3 linked regions of the Homo sapiens genome follow. The protein of the gene in region 3 interacts with the protein of the main gene of each other region in a pairwise test. Each region holds a gene or a part of one and is shown on either strand. Other genes may lie near its edges.

Region 1 (3,035 bases), on a different chromosome or scaffold from region 3:
CGGGGTTTCACCATGTTGGTCAGGCTGGTCTTGAACTCCTGACCTCAAATGATCCACCCGCCTCAGCCTCCCAAAGTGCTGGGATTACAGGTGTGAGCCACTGCGCCCGGCCTGTTTTCTTACTTTTAAATTTCTTGTAGAGATGGGGGTCTTGCTATGTTGCCCAGCCTGGTCTCAAACTCCTGGCCTCAAGTGATCCTCCCACCTCAGCCTCTTCAGTAGCTGGAACAATAGGCATGTGTACCACCACATGTGGCTAATTATTTTTTATTTTTTGTAGAGATGGGGTGTCACTATGTTGCCCGGGTTGCTCTTGGACTCCTAGTCTCAGATGATCCTCTTGCTTCAGCCTCCCAAAGTGCTGGGATTACAGGTGTGAGCCACCATGCTCCGCCAGAATCCAGTCCTAAATTTCATTGTGCCCATGGCTTTGTCTTCCCAGGAGCTCCTGTGCTCTAAGCAACCAAGAGGAAGCATCGAAGTTTCAGCATCACTGGTCTCTGTCGCCATCTCCCCTCCACCTCATACCCTGTGCAATAGCTGGTGATGTGCACTAGCCCTCCCCGCCACCAGAAGCCCTAAGGGGTTGAAAGCAGAACCCCATTTTAGACACCCCTCGCCAAAAAACATAGTCCAGGATACACATTTATTCTCTGTGGAAAAAGAAAGAATTTGACTTTATTTAGAAAGTCTACAAAATACAGAAGACGATAACTCGCTTGCTGTAAGTCAGGAAATAAATAAATTCTAGGAGCCGGGCAATATTTTTTAACTTTTTTTTTGAGACAGGATTTTGCTATGTTGCCCAGGCTGGAGTGCAGTGGTGCGATCTCAGCTCACTACAACCTCTGCCTTCTGGGCTTAAGTGATCCTCCTGCCTCAGCCTCCCAAGTAGCTGGGACTACAGGCATGAGCCACCATGCATGGCTAATTTTTGTATTTTTTGTAGAGATGGGGTTTCACCATGTTGTCCAGGCTGGTCTCAAACTCCTGGACTCAAGCGATCCCCCTCCTTGGACTCCCAAAGTGCTGGGATTACAGATGTGAGCCACCGCGCCCGGCTTAAACATTTTTTGTTGTTGCTCTCCGGCTTTCCCTAAATATAAGATAAAATGTGATTTATTTGCAGATATAAAATATAAAGCCCAGCTCAGGGCCATACGCCACTTTTCCCAGGGAGCAGGAGCTCGGGCTCTGGCTGGGGAGAATAACTTAGATCCGTGCAATAAATAAACAGTGGGGAGGGGCAGTGTGGACAGTGTTGGGGGAGGGACTGAGACTGGGCTTCCCAGGAGAATGACAATCAAAGGCAGGGGTCAGCCCCCACCCCACAGTGGACACTGACAGGGGTTGAGGTGGGACCCTTCTTCTTAGGACCCCACTCCAGACTGTAGTAGGACTGCAGGGTCTGTCTCCTTGTCTCCCTATTTGCCACAGCAGTCCATGGCCCCCTTTCTCTGACTGGCCAGCCCCCGGACACCCTGGCTGCAGGGACAGCCTAGGGCTGAGCCAGGCCAGCTCCTTCCCACTCTTCCATCCGTGTCACCTTCTCTCTCCCTCTGCTTCTCTCCCCCTCCCTTGCAGAGAGCGGTCTCCCAAGCCAGGGAGGCCCTCCCACCACATTTCTGAGTCCCTGTCCACTGTCCCCCTGAAAACCATGGCTGGACTCAGGGCAGCAGTGAGGACACCCAGGTTTTGGTCCCAACACAACCACTAAGTGAAATGTGACCTCAGGCCTGTTTCCCCATCCGTGAACTGGGTTTCACTAGTCTTCCCACCCACTCTTTTAGTTTCGGAAGGCCAGGCACCCCCAGGCCCAACCAGAGGTGGGGGCATCTCTTCAGTGCAATTTCTCAGCAGGACGGTCCCGTAAGTCACAGACAGCCAAACCTAGCTTTGAATCCTGGGAGGGTTTGGAGGGCATATTGGCACAATAAGAGCAGTTTCCAAGATGAGGGGTGCCCTCTTCTCCCCCAACAGCTGTTCTCTAAGCCGGCTCTGTATCTCTCAATCTAAAAAGGCTAAACTTTCAGCCAAGGGCGATCCCAGATCCAGACCTCTGCCCCATCCCCAACCTACCCAAGTTCCCCTTCCCAGGGTCATTCGGTCCCAGTTTGGGGGGCTGCAAGAGGAAGACAGGGCCCACGAAGGGAATGTGTGTGCACCAAGGGGCCAGTGCTGCAGAGAAATGGGACCTGGGCACAGAGGCGGCGCTCAGGCACTTTGGGGAGGGAGCTGAGGCCGGAGGGGCGTGGCTGAGGCATGGCGGGGGCGGGCACTAGGAGCAGGAGGCCGGGCCGTGGGCGGGGTCCGGGCCGTGGGCGGGGCCAGACCCCGAGCCCGGGGTGGACTTGACGATGGTGATGACGCTGGCCGGCGCCACGAGCGTGGCGGGCCCGCGGGCGGCGGCCACGGAGCGCGCGAAGCCCTGCAGCGCCTCGCACTTGCCGCGCAGCGCGTCGAGCTCCAGGCGCATGGCGGCGTTCTCGCGCGCCAGCTTGTCCACCTCGCGCTCCAGCTCCGACTTCTGCTTCTGCAGCTCCTCCTTCTGGCACACGCGCTTCACGCGGCAGCTGGCGGCGTAGCCACGGTTTTTGAGTGTGCGGCGCCGCTGCTTGAGCCGTGTCACCTCCTCGGCGGAGAGCCCGCGCAGATGCCGGTTCAGCTCGCGCACCGACAGCCCCATCAGCGCCTCGTCCGACAGGTGCGGCGTGTTCTCGCTCAGCTCTCGCTTGATCTGCGGGCATGAGGAAACTGAGGTCCAGGGGACTGGGGACGGGCCCCCCCGCTCCACCCGCGGTGTTCCTCTTTCACCGCCTTAGCCGCCGAGGTGGTGGGTGGACTTGATCCAAAACCCCGAAGGGGAGCAGGAATCCGGGAAGGGGAAACCGGGCCAGACTAGGATCGGGACACAAAAGGAGGCCACCCCGGGGCTCAGCCTGAATTCTAACCTAGCGCCAAGCCCTGGACTCAGCCAGAGAAACCCAGGTCGGAAAGCACCTTTGAATGCCCCAGGGGACATTGACCCGATGGGG
Region 2 (4,028 bases), on a different chromosome or scaffold from region 3:
ATTTGAATGGTTCAAAGTGGCCACTTCCTGAAGAGAAAGAAGTAATGATCTACAGCCCTCCCCTCAACAAACTACCTCCTTAAGGCAGCACCAGCAGAAAGATAGGCTGGTCAATTTTTGCCTTTCTTTGCCAAGTCTAGTTAAAAGAAACAACAATGTGACCTCATCAGGAGGTCCTAAGCTGTTCCTTCCAAATCATGTCTAGATGATGTCAGTATGATATGATTTGGATTCATTGTTAATGGCCAAATAATTAATCTCTGAAAGATGCTTAGGATGAAAAGGTGAAAAATGACAAAGGGACTCTCATAATAGCTGCAGCGTGCAGACATGCGTCTGACTCCGGTTGACCCAAATCACTCAGAGTCAAGCCATGGCCTCCCGCTCCATGAAGCAGATCTGCCTTGTTTGCTAGTTAACTGCCCTGGATGGAGAGGCAGCCAGTCCAGAGGGAGTGTTCGTGTGTGTGTATCGTGACAATGACCTACATATAAGGCACCTGTACAGACTCCAAAGTGTTTAAATTTGTAAGACGAGGTAGGTTTCTGAAACCTCTCCTGGCACACAAGAGAATACATTTTATTAGAATCTTTTTATTTTTTTCTGCAGAAAACATTTGAGATGCTCATTTGATATAAACATCTAATTCCAAGAGAGACCAGTGCTCAAATATAGTTTTTTCAGCTACCATTTGATACGGCCATAAATTTGGATGGTCCATGTTACAATCCTTCCACAATTCTCCACTTAAAGACATCATTTTTCTATGTTTTTAATGACTATTGCCATCTAACAATTCTACAATTCGCCTCTTTGCCTGTAAAAAGGCCAACTCTACGTCCACCTGTGTCTCATATTGCTATCTTTTATTTATCTCTGCTTAAGATTGCAAAAGTTTTTGATTTTATTATTCACCTGAACAATGTATTGCAATTCCAATACACCCCCATCTCTTGCTGTTATCTACAGCTTGTGACAAAATGAACACCTTGTAGAAATATCCTACTGGTTGGGTTTCCCAAGTCTATGACACTATGAGAGAAGCATTGCTGATGGATTGACGAGGAGACCACCAGATCATTAAAGGATTAGATACTCTGAAGGCAGGAAACTAGAAAATCCCATTGATGAAAGGATATTTTAATCTAGCGTAAAATGTTTCTTTGTCGTAACAGCAGAATTTCTTGACATTTTACAACTTAATGAAACAAAAGAACAATCATCTTTAAAGTCAAACATCTATCAAATTATAAACCAAACACATAGCACCGATATCAACCTCATAAAACGTGCGGGCCCGCAGGGTAGAAAAGAACTGTCTGGGGCACTGGCAGCAACGTGCCATTCCAGGAACTCAGAATTTCGAAGTGAACATTTTTGTGGCAGATGCTTTTCCTAAAAAACACTGTATCATCCAATAAATATTTGACTAAAATCCATTTTGTGCTTTTGGGTGACGTTAACTGACTTCTTTCTGAGGCCTAATAAGAAACAAGAAAGCTCCTTGTGTATTTTAGAGCAGGATTCGTCATCACAAGCCTCGATACTGTCATAAAATTTTAATTTAAAGCAGAAAACATGCTGATGTGTCAGTGATAGGGCTTAAAATATTAAAGACTTCAAAAACCCCCAAGCACTTCTTCTCTGTACAACATTGGTGAATATATATCTTTGCTATATAATTTTAAAACATGGAATAGTTTTCCTCTCCTCTTTTCTATATATAATATATGTCTTCCAAAATACATTGTCAGTATTTATATCTGAAAAATACTGTACAAAAAAGAACTTCCTATAATTACTCTGTATAAACATTAAACGATTTAATAATCTCTCCTTTTGGTCTATAGTAAACATTTAAATTGATTGGATTAACCACAGTTTGTGACAACACCATCCCCTTCTGAGATACACCAGTGTCTTTTACATTCATTTTTCAGAAGTCCACTTTATAAGAGCACATACGTTCAAAAGCAAACAGAGAATAAGAAACATAAGCTTCAGAATCATTAATTTATGAGGCATTCAAAAATGACACCACTAGGAAAAAGGGCCTTAGAAAACATCAACTTATTAACTTAATCAACTGATTTTCTTTTTAAAAACAACAAAGTATAATTCACAAAAATATATATATTACCAAAAAGTGGGAAAACTGAATCTTAAGTAACTGTTTTGAATGTCAAGAGGGATATGGAAAAAGTTAACTAGAAAAGTGGGGGCGAGGCAGGGTGTGAGGGAAGGGGAACAACAAAACCGAACACATCAATGTCAAAGGCTAATCCAAGACGCAGTTTTTGGCTCATGTACTGATAAATTAACCCCTCATCCTTAGACCTCCCATTTCCCTCTGCTTCCTTGTCCTAGGGAATAGTCTGGCCATGCTCAAATGCATTACTTTACTTTTTGTTTTTTAAAAGACAGTGAAATTCTTAGGTAGGGAAAATATCCTACGTCCACTAGTAATACTCAGGCAGCATGCTCTAGCGTACAATAGGATTATTGCTTTAGGTACAGACAGTGCAAAAACACACTCTGTGTTCTATTAATAGTACTCTTACTTATCTGGGGTTGGTAGAATTAAAAGGAAACTTAGTAGATAGCAGTAAGTAAATATGGGATCTAATAAATCTAAACAGCACTTTAATTTGAAGACGATTATCACCAAAACTGAAAGTAAGAGGAAAGCAACTTATAAAGGACTAGAGCTGCGGAGTAGTGCTAAGTTATTGTGTGCACCTCATTAGCATGGTAACTTACGGACTAAACAGAAACAAGAGCTTGTACTCTTAAAAACTGAGATCCACTATTTTACCAGGGCCCTTTTTAGTGAATCCAAGCAGAGAGTCCTGGAAGAGTAGGTAAGCTCGAACATGAAGCAAAGCTGAGGAGGCAGGAGTGAAGGAGGGAGGGGATGGGAGACCCGCGAGAGGGCTCCTCAGTCTAGTAAAGACATGGCACCTTTCTTTGTTGGAACTAAAAGACGATGAGAGGGCTACCTTAAAATGGCAAGAGCAAAGGAACACGCACACGCACATACCGCTGACCACACACATGAGCACAAGCACATATACACGCACACACACACAGATGCACACCAAAATGGGAGTCAGTTGTGTTTATGCCTCTGGTAAAGTGCTGATGTCAGAAAGGTTGGTTTGCGTGTGGTGCTATCAGACAGGAAACAAACTGTCCATCTATTCCAAAGCCAGCCTGCAAAAATGCCATCCTACAGGGGCCCGTGCCTGGCCTCATACTTGGCAAGTATGTTCTTGCATTTGCCCAGCTCCTTCCTCAAGTCAGCCACCTCCTGGCGGAGGGCCGAGTTCTCCTTCTCCAGGAACGAGGCCCGGATGGCGATCTGGTTCTCTTTCAGCCTCCGGGCGTCGCGGGAGCGCTTGGCTGCCATGTTGTTCTTTCTGCGCCTTGCCCAGTACTTGTCATCCTGCTCATTAGTTACAGAAGGGAAAAAGAAACAAGATATTAGATTTCAGCAAAGCCCAGTGCCAGCCAGGGCACGGGCAGGCTCCAGGATTGTGCAGAGGTGCCAGCCCGGGTTTCTTAGCTTGTGTCTCCTTCCTTTACAGTTTCTGCATGTCTGAGAGTGTGGCCCATGAGCCACACTTCCTTCTTGGAGCAAGGACCCACCGATCTGTCCCAACAGGCTCCTACTCTTTGCCCAGCAGAGGCGTGCTCAGTGAAGCAGAGATCAGAGGCTGGATGAAAGCAGGTGGCTCACCTCACCCTTAAATTACATTTCAACTTTCTTTACTCTCCCTGCTCAACATTTTAAGAACCCTTTTCCTTCAAGGGCACTCATATGCTTTTTTGGGTATGAGTTGGTACAAAAATTTTAGAAGGCAATTTGGCAATATCTATCAACTATTTAAATGGATATACTATTCATCTAGCACTCCACTTCCAGGATTTTGTCCTGTAGCAATCTCCATACATGTGCATGTACACACAAGCATAAACTGTTCACTGCAGCATTATGTGCAGTAGAAAAAATGAGGAAAAACTATGCA
Region 3 (5,740 bases):
ATTAATTAGCTTTTTAGGGGTCTTAAACTGTAATTAACTGGCCTTCAAATAAACACTACAAATAAGCATTTGAAAATCCACTCTATTCATAAGGTAGAAAATGACATTTATAATCATCCACTGACTGGAAAAGTGGAAAAAGAAATTAAAAAGCCAAGTGAAGCAAGTTGGGATGATTCTACATTATCATTAGAAACTTTCAAGAATTTTCTCAGCCTGACTGTCCCCTTAGCCCACCATTTTTGCCATCATTACACCATGTTGCATGTATTACTTATTCATTGGGGAATTTTCTACAACTGGGTTACTTTGTGATTGTTGGTGTCCTTTTAAGATTTCAGATTAGTTGCTACACTGATCAGTTATCTTTTCAGAAGTTTCAAGATATTAATAGTCCCCACATTTAAGTTTCTATAGATTTTTAAAAAATTATTACTGTTCTGTTTTTCCCCCATGTTACTACCCATCTTTAGTGAGAGCTGTTCTTATTTCTCAAGCTGTGCAGTTAATTGGTCGTGCTAGCGTGTATGTGCTTACTCTGTGCAGGCTTCAGAATAATTTAATTGTGTATTAAGTTTCAAACACTGACGACCTCTTAAAGAAGAATGTTAAGTTATACTATTTCATATTTCAATTACTTAAATTACATCAGTGATGTAATAAAATGCAATGTTGTCATCGTATTTATTAAATTTAAATTTAATTTTCAGCTAGTCCTTTGTCGAACTTGAAATATTTTCATTTATCATAAACTGGATCAGGCTTTGACACATTTATTTACAGAGGCACCCAAATAGAAAAAGTAGGTCAATTTGTTGCTATGATAGAATAGATTCTGGCAGTGTGCGAGAGTGTGTGTGTATGTGTGTGTGTGCGTCTTGCCTGTCTTGATCAAGTGCACATTTCTCTCTAACTTTGGGGTAAGCTGCTTCTTGGGGACAGAATGGCCCTTAGAGAGGTTTAACATAGTTTTCTCAGCTTAAAAATCCTTCTCTTTTTCAACGGGATTAGAAAATTCTCTTGCAACTTCGGTGTTTTCTGACTGAGTTTTTTCACTCCCCATTTCCTCTGGGTTGTACATGTATAGTGAATTCTTTTCTTATTTCATCTCTGCTTTTAAATACTAGATTGTTTTCTCATCCATGAAAAGAAGTAAAGCATTTCATTGACGCAGATACTGTGAATTTTACCCACAGGAAGAAAATGTAGGGTTAACATATTGCTAGTATTCATACTTTAAAAGTATAAAGAGATGTGAATTGATTAATTGATTTGATTTTTTCATGAAAATGACATTTATCTAAAAAATAAGCATCTGCTGTCTTACTGGAGAGGTGGCTTACAGTTTAACATAACTTAGGTTTACCTTGAAGACATTTTTTTTTCCTTTACTGTTATCTGTATTATATAACAGGGAGAAAACAATACATTCAGAGAGTAGAGGGAAAATAAGATAATTCTATAATGTTTCCAAATCATTGGGCATATCAAATAGTATTTCATCTTCTATTGACAGAATTTTAAAAACAAAATATATATTGCAATTTGCAATAAAACTTACCCTTTATAGATAATTAATAACAAAATGTTCTCAGAGTAGATTTTAATGTTTAGACTATTAGTAAGATTTCAGATGATTGAAACAAAGCATGTTTATTCTTTTCTTTTGTGGAGCTTGGATTGTTAAACATTAGTTCTGGGAGAGACCAGGGAAGATAAAGGTCTATCATAAACATAACTAATGAGATAACTCCTCAAGGATAAATTTGGTCTAGAATTATTGTTATGAGGTTATATTCTTTTATAGAATTTTCTAAATCAAATCTTGTACTTAATTAAAAACAATAGGGTAATCTGACTTAAACTTTAAAAATCTGGGCTTATGAAATATAATTCTTGCTATATAATTCTTGCTTAGAGAAGTAGTGTGATGGACTATACAAAAGCATTAATTAGTGATGGCACCTTCGGAGTATGTATGGAAAAATATGTCAACTGGTAGGTAATAATACCTGCTCTTAAATTTCTCTTTTTTATTTGTGTTTTCAAGGAGAGTCATATCATCTAATGTGTGTAATGAAGTTAATCGTGCTGAATACACTAACATCATAGAATTGGCATGTAGTGTCAATTATTCACCAAAAAAGAAACTTAAGCAATGACTAATATACCACAACATTAGATGTTGATTTGAAAAGATGATGCATAGATGAAGTAATTGTTAAATTAATCATAAGGGAAAATATTGAGGCTTGAAATAAATTTGTTAGGTTAGCATAAATCCTGAGGCTTTTTGAAGGCATCGTAAACTACTTTTGCATTTGCTTTAAGTTCATTGTTGAGGGGCATAAGGAGAGCTCAGAGCCCATCTGTGCCCAACTGCTGTGTGGTCTTGGGAAGGTCAGCCTGTCTTCTAGCTGATTAATCTGCAAAATGAGAGGGTCAGAGAGACACTGTCCCCCGCCTCATGTTGAAAACAGATTACACTCTTGGATTTGTTAAAAAAAAAAAAAAAAGAAGAAGATCATAGGTGACAATGTCCACAGCTATCATATTTCTTTTTCTCTATTTAACATAATTAGAATAGCCAGGAGGTTAAAATTTTAGTAAAGATATGAAAATTAATAAAATGTTTTCTCAATTCATAAATAGTGCCAGATCTGAAACATCTAAGGAGGATGGAGAAAAGTTCTAGATAGTATCTTTGCTGGCTAAAGAAGTTAAGACAGCATCTAAGAGAAGTTAAGGAGCCAGGCGTGACGGCTCACGCCTGTAATCCCAGCACTTTGGGAGGCTGTGGCAGGCGGATCACCTGAGATCGGGAGTTCAAGACCAGCCTGACCAACATGGAGAAACCCCGTCTCTACTAAAAATACAAAATTAGTTGGGCATGGTGGCGCATGCCTGTAATCCCAGCTACTTGGGAGGCTGAGGCAGGAGAATCGCTTGAACCCAGGAGGTGGAAGTTGTGGTGAGCCAAGATCGCGCCATTGCACTCCAGCCTGGGCAACAAGAGCAAAACTCCTTCTCAAAAAGAAAAAAAAAAAAAAAGAAGAAGTAGTTAAGTTAGCATAGTGCCTTACTGCGCCCAAAGTAACTTAGTAAAAGGGTATGTATTACTCAGAAATGAAAGTGACACAAAAGAGAACTGTGTGTAAATGAGACTGCATTGCAAAGATGCAGAACCACCTGTGAAAGTGTAGGAGAGAGTAAAGGAACTGGGCCTGAATGTACGCTCTGCCATTTAGCTATGTGACACTGGGCAAGTCACTTGACTTCTCTGAGCCTTAGTTTTCTTATCTGAAAATTGTCACCAAAAGTGAATGAAAGAAAGCAGGTCAGGCTCCCAGTGCCCATTCTGTGGTAAGTGTTCAATAAATGGCACCAATTATGATTGTTTTTGTTATTATCTCCATGACAAGAAGAAAGCCTGCACCCCAGGCCCATGTTTGTGCAACTCTGCACTCACACCTGGTTCCCCTCTGCTCACCTGTTTGTCTCCCACCCACCCACGACTGAGCGCCTGGTCTCGGGAGTTTGGTTTTTCTCTCCCTCTTTATGTGCCCCTAGTCTCCCCTTGTGCCCAGTACACAGTAGGTGCTCCATATGTGTTGAATAAACAAATTAATGAATAAGAGAATCTCTCTGTTAATAAGTAAAATATCTTCTTTACAATTCACATAACATTAAAAAGAAAGCATCAAAAAAGTTTTCTGTTTACAAAACTCTCTTATATAAGGTATATGGGTGACTGTCAATGAAATGTTGAGCACCTAATATCTTCAGGTTTTTGCTAGAAGACAAGTATATTTTAATTTCCGCCCTGAAGTAATTCGCAGTGTAGTTGGGCACAAAAGACAAACACGTGGAAACACACACAGTGTATATGATTGTGCCTGTCTCCGTATCATCCCATAATGCTGATAAACTCTTTTCAACACTGCAAGATTATTTGATAGATAATATTACAGAAAATATCCTAAGATAGTGTGGTGATTTGCCATTGAGTTGTAGAGACCATGAATGTAATACATACAGATGAGAGCAGAATCACAGATTTATAGTGACATGCCATGAAATTCAAATAGGAAGAAGATGATTAAAAACAAATGAGGTGGCCTGGCGAGGTGGCTCACGCCTGTAATCCCAGCACTTTGGGAGGCCAAGGTAGGCAGATCACCTGAGGTCGGGAGTTCAAGACCAGCCTGAACTCCCCATGGAGAAACCCCATGGAGTTTCCCCATCTCTACTAAACCCCATCTCTACTAACATGGAGAAACCCCATCTCTACTAAAAATACAAAAGTAGCTGGGCTTAGTGGCACATGCCTGTAATCCCAGCTACTTGGGAGGCTGAGGCAGGAGAATTGCTTGGACCCTGTAGGCAGAGGTTGCGGTGAGCCAAGATCGTACCATTGCACTCCAGCCTGGGCAACAAGAGTGAAACTCTGTCTCAAAAACAAAAAAGCAAATGAAGTTTTCTGTAGGTTAATGTACCAACAAAGTTGTAGAGATGATAAAGTAGTCATATAGTACTTAGACACCTAGAAGACATGAGTTAAGGAAATTTTAAGACAAATGGGGCTATTTCAGTTAAATAGAAATAGGACCTATTGTGAAGGCTCCTTCCCAATTGGGCCCCAACCTTGAAAAGGTCCTAGAAGTTTAGGAAGAGTAACTAAGGCAGACAGAATGGCGGGGCATTTCAAAAGCATTACTGTAAATCTAGTAAGTGAGGCAAAATAAAGGAATCTGATTTTTTTTTTTAAGAAGGAACAAATAAGATAACACATGGAAGAGAAAGATTCTCAGGTGGAGAAAATAACCAGAATAATAGTCTGCAAGGGATCATATGATGTTTAAAAACTAAAAGTGGAAAAAAGTAGTGGCCAAGAGTATAGTGGAGATTTGAAAGGTGCCTTGGGAAAGGTCAGTGCAATTGTCTTCTTTAACTGGGATATCTTCCTCTTTACTTCTCCACTCATTTTACTTTAGCAGGAGGACTTTGCTGAATGGCAGAGTGCAGACTTCAACAGAGGAAAGAATCCATTCAATATGTAAAGGAAACTGGGTTTTCATATTAGAGGACAAAACCTAAATGCAAATTAGAGGAAATAGTATTGTTGGCCGGGCGTGGTGGCTCATGCCTGTAATCCCAGCACTTTGGGAGTCCGAGGCAGGCAAATCACCTGAGATCAGGAGTTCAAGACCAGCCTGACCAACATGGTAAAATCCCGTCTCTACTAAAAATACAAAAAAATTAGCTGGGCGTGGTGGCGCGTAACTGTAACCCCAGCTACTCAGGAGGCTGAGGCAGGAGAGTCGCTTGAGCCTGGGAAGCAGAGGCTGCAGTGCACCAAGATTGCACCACTGCACTCTAGCCTGGGCAGCAGAGCGAGACTCTTATCAAAAAAAAAAAAGGAAATAATATTGTTTAAATGATAAATAGGAAGATTCCTTCTCTGCAACATCACTGCTGACTGTGACACACTCCTTGCCTTCATTTCCTATTAAAGTTTCATTACCAAAAAACAAACAGAAACTTGATATTAATAATCACAAATTTCTCTGAGTTACGACTAGCTGTTCCCTTAACTATGTTGGCTCAGTTTAATGGGCAAAAACCTGGCATGAAACATTATTCTTTATGATCCTGAAATTATTACATAATTCCTTTCATTCCCTGGAAAAGACAAAAGAAGCTGGCAGGCTTTTCCAATTGATAAAAGTAAACTTCATTT

The links. The genes of interacting proteins can lie anywhere in the genome.
Region 1: the proteins of NFIL3 (region 3) and MAFF come close enough for resonance energy transfer, tested with the Homo sapiens proteins (one large-scale study listed by BioGRID and IntAct).
Region 2: the proteins of NFIL3 (region 3) and HLF come close enough for resonance energy transfer, tested with the Homo sapiens proteins (one large-scale study listed by IntAct).

What each region holds. Positions count from the first base shown.
Region 1 is NC_000022.11:38,214,122-38,217,156, reverse strand, and holds the end of MAFF (transcription factor MafF), read right to left. Parts: intron 2,738-3,035; coding exon 2,279-2,737; 3' UTR 650-2,278; downstream 1-649. UniProt on the Homo sapiens protein: Since they lack a putative transactivation domain, the small Mafs behave as transcriptional repressors when they dimerize among themselves.
Region 2 is NC_000017.11:55,320,081-55,324,108, reverse strand, and holds part of HLF (hepatic leukemia factor), read right to left. Parts: intron 3,449-4,028; coding exon of another isoform or gene 3,446-3,448; coding exon 3,230-3,445; 3' UTR 1-3,229.
Region 3 is NC_000009.12:91,412,935-91,418,674, reverse strand, and holds part of NFIL3 (nuclear factor interleukin-3-regulated protein), read left to right. Parts: exon of another isoform or gene 1-3,109; intron 3,110-5,740.